Linked DNA regions of Homo sapiens. The protein of the gene in region 1 interacts with the protein of each later gene in a pairwise test. Each region holds a gene or a part of one and is shown in the gene's direction. Other genes may lie near its edges.

Region 1 (3,824 bases):
AGGGACGATAATATGCATGGGGCTGTTTCATGAGGATTGAATAGATAACAAGCACATGATAGGCATTTAATAAATGTTGGTTTTTACATTATTCTTAACACCTTTGGAGGAGTTAGTGTTAGCCCAGTTGCAGAAGAGGAAACAGACTCGAAGATGGTGACTCATCCGCGACAACACAGCTAGCAGTGGCAGTACCGGGAATCAGATTTGTACCTATGGTTGTTTCTACTCCGACAGCTTCCAGTACCACACATACACTTATTTATTTATGAATGAATGATAAGGTCTTGCTCTGTTGCCCAGGCTGACATGCAGTAGCGCAATCATAGCTCACTGCAGCCTTGAACTCCTGAGCTCAGGCAGTCTTCCTGCCTCAGCCTCCTGAGTAGCTGGGAATACAGGTGTGCACCACTGTGCCCAGCTCAGTATTACAAATTTAAAATCGAGGATCTCCCACCCCTGGCTAGGGGTAGGCATCAAAAAATAATCTCCTCAACATCTGACTGTTGACAAACTCATCATCTCCAGAAATGCCCTGGGAGCCAGAGAGTCCCAACGCAAAGTGAAACCTGCAGTCTTCTGCAGTTTGGTTATTTTCTGCAGCTTCGGCTTGGAGGGATTGGGTGTGTACATAGGTGGGGACCCCTTCCAGACACTCTCCTTTCCCTTTCTAGTTTCTTCTCCGTAGGGGTCTTTAACTTGTTATATTTTCATTTGCCTGGTAATGGTGTCCCTTCCTGTTATTCCACACAGGGTGGAGGTCTTAGGGTACAAATTATAGAAAATAGAGAAATTATAAGTTTGAATCTTTGTTCCTCAATGCAGTCTAAGTCAAGGTAATTGACTAAATGCAATGGTGTTCTGGATATGCTCTTGCTTCTGTGCCATTTAAGATCTATTAATCTCTGTATCCCGTCTCCCTTTTGCTGAAGAAGCAAACTATTTTTGGTTTGGCTCTTCTGGCCTTGAATCTTACATTAGGTGGTCCTGTGCTCTAAGAAGCTTCCTGACATCCTGAGAGGTAATGTCTTCCCTCAGAAGCACTTCTTAAGTCTTTTTTCTAGTTTCAAGCATTGCTTGCAATGTCTGGCAGTGGCTGCTTGCTGCTTTTAAGCCTTTTCCAGCTGATTTGAGCCCTTCAGCCTGGTCGGCTTAACTCACATCTCTAAAAGCTTCTACTTTACCACAGGAGTTATCTAAGCATGCAGATTACTTATCGAGTTGGTTCTCATGCTAAACTTTTGAGACTTGGTCTTCACATTTGAGAACAGTGAGAACAACTTGTATTTTTCTTAGTCTTCCTGGGATGTTGTATAGTTAAGACCATGTACTGAAACAGGCTGCTGACAGTCTCATCAGATGTTGTGAGTGATCCAAATGCTTTATGATAGCTCTCCTTGGTGCTCCTGTTTCCTTTGAATGGAATTCCTACAGAAGAAAAAGGGAAGCAAATATCCCTCTCTTTTCCCAGGCTCTAACACTCTTCTTGGGTCCTCAGTGTAGCACCGTGGGAGAAGTTCTTGCCCTTTCAGCTCAGAAGACTCATTTTGAAGCCAAAACATGATGATAGATGCACCACTGGCATTTGCTGATCAAGAAAACTCATGTCTGCCTGGTATGGTGGCTTGTATCTGCAATTCCAGCTATTTTAGGAGGCTGAGGCGAGGGGATTGTTTGAGTTCAGAGTTTGAGATCAGCCTGAGCAACACAGTGAAACCCCATCTCTTTAAAAAAAAAAAAAAAAAAGAGAGAGAGAAATCTCACACCCACACATGGATTTGTAAGCACTCCATGGCCCCCAAGTTGGAAGTCCTTATTTATGGCATAGGACTTGATCTGGGCTCTATCACTAAGAAGCTGTATTGTGCTGGGCAGGGCTCTGGAGTCTTAGTTTCCTTGTATAAAACATCAGAAGTTTTGACAAACTGGGTGTCTATTAGATTTAGTCCTTGGCCATTCTAAGAGGAAAGAGCCCAGTTTCTGCATCTAAAACTCAACGTCTCTGCTATATATATCACAGAGGTCTTGACTGATAATATGTGCAAGACAGTAGTGCAGGCTGGGGTGAATGGGATGGATTTTCTGGTGAGCGCCATGGACCTGGGGTTCATTGTGAACGTACAATACAGAAGAAGCTGCTGAATTTTTTTTTTTTTTTGAGACAAGTCTGGCTCTGTCGCCCAGGCTGGAGTGCAGTGGTGCAATCTCGGCTCACTGCAAGCTCCGCCTCCAGGGTTCACACCATTCTCCTACCCTAGCCTCCTGAGTAGCTGGGACTACAGGCACTCCCCACCATGCCCGGCTAATATTTTTTGTATTTTTAGTAGAGATGGGGTTTCACCATGTTAGTCAGGATGGTGTCGATCCCCTGACCTCATGATCCTCCCACCTCGGCTTCCCAAAGTGCTGGGACTACAGGCATGAGCCACCGCGCCTGGCCAAGAAGCTGCTGACTGAGCAGAGATCCTGAGGGAAATCGAAGTCCCCAGATAGAATAGGGCCTTATAGCCACAGTCTCTCTTTGGCATATGATTTCTGTCTCAGCTTGGAAGCAGAACTTAATTTATTACACAAGGAACTGTGAAGAAAGATGGACCCCAGGTAGAAAGAGGAGAGATTGCTAGATTGAACTTAGAGTCCTTTATTTTTTAGCCTATATCTTCTTGAGTCAAAATTACTTTATTGGAGTCAGCTATTTTTCTATCCTTTCTCCTTATTTTCTCTCCTCCTAGAATGAAGTTACTGAAGGAGAGTGGATATAGGATATTGCATTGTCAGCAGTTTGTCCTCATTGGATAGGAGAAGGTTGAGAGATGACTGGAGATGTTGAGGGTGTCAGGGTTCAGTGCAGCTTGTATTAGGTTGCACCATGTAAAAGAGCTATTTTGTGGTTCTAAAATGGTTGGATATTGGTAGTTCACATAGTTGAACCTAATATCTGAGGATGTAAGATGGCCACCATAGTCTTGTTTCCCATGAGGAAACACCCTCCTGGGGAGTCTCTCTCTCTCTCATTCTAAGAGATCTTTGTCTATATGTGTGGAAGAATGTGATTTGTAGGGAAACCAGAAGAAGGTTATAGCCGTGTCTTGGGCTTGAATTTCAAGCTGGGGGTTGAGCATGTTGTATTTTAGGGAAACAGCATGCATTGTGGCCCACTGGTCAACTCGGCCTCATGGGTTTATTTTATGGTTTGAGGATTAGTTGCCAATCTGCCCACAGAGTGCTGTCTGTAAAAATGGGTTCCAAAAACTGGGTGATTAGGGTAGTGAGAAAGTCCACTGACCTTCTCACAGGTTCTGGAATCAGTTCAGATTCAGTTCAGTTCAGCTTTTTAATATTTGGGCACATACAGGTACTTAATAATAAATAATCTGTAATAAATAGAAGAATGCCCAAAGAAACAGCTTTGTGCACAGAGTGGGATTGACTGCCAAAGGGCCTCTGGAGGAGGGACATTCAGGAGCCCCGGACACACATTGTTGCCCTGTTGCCTTCAAATCAGCTTTGTTTGGGTGTGGAGGGCATTTTGTACACAGTGGCAACTGGATGGGATTTGTGGTCTGGGGAGGTTTTCTTTTCCAACCCTATTTGTTCCAGCACCCTGAAGGTTGGATGCTGGTAAGTGCATCTGCTGTGTCTTTTATGAGGTAATGTGCATACCAGGGTACTGGAGGGCAGTGGAGGAGAGGGAGAAGAAGGGGCAGAGGAGCAACTGTTGCAAAAGCCCCTGAGTGAGAGGGCGATTGTTGCGGTTATATCAATGTGCCCTGATATTCAGGTTTCTTTTGGACACCTGAATCTGGCCAATTTTAGTCCAATTT
Region 2 (3,824 bases), on another chromosome or scaffold:
ATTTTTGGTTTTTACAAAAGGCTAAGTGAATAGGAAGATGCCTCTGGTGAAGATGTGTGTCACATGCAGGACCATGTGAAAAGATCAGAGAGGAGATTTATTCAGATGATGTTTGAAGAGTTTTAGGTTAACTGTGTACGAAAGATTTGAAACAGCCAGAAAGTATCAACATTTGTGGTATGCTTCATAAACAGTAGAGTGAGAATTTTTTCTTTTGTCTATTATGGAAAGCTGAATAAAATATTTTCTGAAGGAAAAAATAAAACACTCAGTTGACTTTCAAAAATCTTAACAGTCTAGTGACCAGGCACGGTGGCTCATGCCTGTAATCCTAGCAGTCTGGGAGGCCGAGGCAGATGGATCGGGCAGATCGCTTGAACTGGGAGTTCGAGACCAGCCTGGGCAACGTGGCGAAACCCTGTCTCTGCCAAAAATACACAAAGTAGCTGAGCATGGTGGTGCATGCCTGTGGTCCTAGCTTCTCGGGAGGCTAAGGCAGGAGGATCACTTGAGTCTGGGAGGCAGAGGTTGCAGTGAGCCGAGATCATGCCACTGCACTCCAGCCTGGGTGACAAAGTGAGACCCCATCTCAAAAAAAAAAAAATCTTAATAGTCTAGATATAGAAAAAAGGTGAAAATTATACATATATAAAATGTTTGGGGGGGGGGTTACGTGCATTGGAACTTTCACATAAGGGGGTTAGTGACAATCAGATTTATGTAAGAATGATGAAATGTTTGAAAAATTCTGTGATGACAGATAAACATTATACCATAAATTTGTTGAAATCATAACACAGTTCTAGCTTTTAGTTTATGTTCTGTGGATTTCTTGTGTGTGTTTACGGGTGTTTTTATATATGTATGTATGTATGATTGTTCCTCCAAATCACCCACCTCATTCTGGATATTTACTAATCAGATTAGGTTTAGCTCTACTAGAAACTTACCCTTAGAGTGAAAAACTACTTGATGCCAATGATGATCTGCGGGATAAAAGCGAAGCAATGAGAGACTGCACAAAAGGAGACCGCTCCAAAAATATTGCGCAATGATGGAGTCACTGGGAAAAAAAAGACTGTCTACTGCAGGCAGAAATGTACACTCCTAAGCTAGAGGCTAATTGTTTGAATAAATATAGCATCTTAAAATTTCCTTTCATAAATAAAACATAGTGATAGAAGAAAGATGAAGCCCAGGAGTGCTATGTGAGCACTTAATCTGACACGAAGGAGAAAATCACAGAAAGAAAGCCTTCTTATAGAGAAGTCACCTCATTCTCCCAAGAAGCTAGGACCACAGGCATGTGCCACCATGCCCAGCTACTTTTTGCATTTTTAGTAGAGACAGAATTTTGCCGTGTTGCCCAGGCTGGACTCAAACTCCTGAGCTGGAGTGATCTGCCTGCCTCAGCCTCCCAAAGCACTAGGATTACAGGCGTGTTCTTCTGGACACTCATGCCCTCTGTCTGCTCTGTATGCCTATTGGGTGATTTGCTCTACTTGCCAGCTTTGCTGTAAAAAGACGAAAAAAAAAAAAGGGGCAGTAAGTATAACTGCTTATGCGAGTGTGCATTTTGGTGGAGGAGTTTTATAAATGATAGACAAAATTCCCCTTTAGGCTCTATTTAATCTTTCAGATAGTAAATCCAGATTTGCCCCCAGATGTAAGACGTCATGTGACTAGTAGCTTGTGACTGTGTAAGTCATCGGTTTCACTTTATGTATGGATAGGATTACACGCAGAGGTGAAAGGTGAAACGCTGGTTAAGAGTACAAGTTTCAAGTTTGCTCTGTGCTTCCATACAAATATAATAGAAGCAGCTTCTGTAGAATTTCCTTAGCAGTAAACCAGACGTGTTCCAAGAGAATAACAGTAATAAAAAAATTTAGGTTAAAAATCTTAGAGTTAAGGCTTAAAGTACTGCCTAAATGTCACTAAGGTACACTTCTGAGCTGGCCTGCAGCTAACTTCAGATCTGACTTTTGCTTGAATTGCAGTCATCCGAATTTCACTAGGAACATAGGCAAAAGATAACTTTTGCAAATAAATTTCATCATTTCACCTTTATGGCAAATAATGGATTTCTAATATGAAACTTTAATAATATTAACATATGGGAATTACATTAACATGTGACTAGTTACACTATCATTGGAATTTTAACCAACTGCTTCCAAATACAGTTAGAGAATTTTATAATTATTTGATATAATGGGGATAGCTGGGACTGAATGTCACTTGGACATTCAAAAGATCAATACTTGAATTAAAGTTAACACTTATCTTGGGAGTGGAGGTAAAAAATAAATAAAAAGCTTGTTTCAGTGCTATGAAAGATGCCTGTAAATAGCACAGCTGTTTTAGGTTTCTTGTTGTCTGAGAAAGGGTTTACAAATAAGGAAAAAGGCTACAATGAACCTCATAGCATTGGATTGGATTAGACATTAATATGAGCTTCAGGTTTCATATGTGTGTGTGTGTAAGAGTATATGCATATATATATGTGAGTGTGTATAGATATATGTATGTACACACACATATGTGTAAACAGATAAAGAAGTTGATACAGATGCATGTGTGTATACATACGTTTATTTACTAGCCATACCTGCTGAGAGGGCTTAAAAGGAATGACACCACAGAACCAATTAACTTACCTCGTGCTCAAAATTCGGTTTTTAAATATCATTCTCCAGTAAAAAGAATGGGAATCTCTAGAGAAATGCCTGATTTTAGGACGGGTGGAACAAGTCAAGTAAAGATGTGCCTGAGATATTTTGTTGTGCAAGAAACTAAGGAAATGCTTACAAAATGATGGGGACATGTGACAAAGATACAGGATACTGCCATACAAGCTCCAAACATGTAAGACAATTTGAGCAACAAACTAAATAATTACTGTAATGGGTTCAACTTATAGAGTAAACTAATAATCCATGATAAAAATGAACAAATGAATAAAGAAATGGGGGAGAAGGGAACCTCTTTCTTTTTTTATTTTTATTTTTTTATTATACTTTTAAGTTTTAGGGTACATGTGCACAACGTGCAGGTTAGTCACGTATGTATACATGTGTGGAACCTCTTTCTAACAGTAGAATTCCAGCTAATAAATGTAGAAGGAATGGCAGAAATAAAAAAGTCACCATTAAACACCACAGTGATGATTGTTGTAGGGAGGAATTAATTGATGATAACATTAGTGGGGAAAAGTGCGGTGAGAAACAGGATATTTACATATTTGCACTAAGTACAAAGGGAAAAATAATAACTTTTCTGTGGAGAAACATGGCAAAAACAACTTGAAGCAGTGTGCTTCCTGATAAACTGTGCAGGGTACATCACTTGTGTTTTATTTCTGCCAAAAATACATACGTTGAATTTAATGATAAGGAAACATCGAACATCACAGATGGAGGTATATTCACCGGCCAGTGCTCTCTGAGAGTGTCAAGGTCATGAAAAGCAAGGAGAGTGAGGAACTGTTCGAGAGTAAAAGAGACCAGGGCGACAACAGTGAAATATAGCTTATGATCCTGGATCTGAAATAGGGCATTGAGATAATTGATGCAATTTGAGTAAGCTTTTTAGGCTAGCACTGATACAACACTATTATGTAATTTCCTGATTTTGATAGTTGTATTCTGGTTATCTAAGATGTTAACATTTGAGAAATATGTGTGAATGGTAGGAATGTTTACTTTTTTTGCAATGTTTTTGTAAATCCAAAATTATTTAAAAATGAACAGTTAAATATATTTAAAAATAAGCACAGTTTTTGCAATGTGTTACCTACTGTATATTTAATGATAACTTATAAT

Evidence for each region.
Region 2: the proteins of LRMDA (region 1) and RAB32 interact in a two-hybrid assay, tested with the Homo sapiens proteins (one large-scale study listed by BioGRID).

What each region holds. Positions count from the first base shown.
Region 1 is NC_000010.11:75,434,329-75,438,152, forward strand, and holds part of LRMDA (leucine-rich melanocyte differentiation-associated protein), read left to right. Parts: intron 1-3,824. UniProt on the Homo sapiens protein: Required for melanocyte differentiation.
Region 2 is NC_000006.12:146,550,066-146,553,889, forward strand, and holds part of RAB32 (ras-related protein Rab-32), read left to right. Parts: intron 1-3,824. UniProt on the Homo sapiens protein: The small GTPases Rab are key regulators of intracellular membrane trafficking, from the formation of transport vesicles to their fusion with membranes.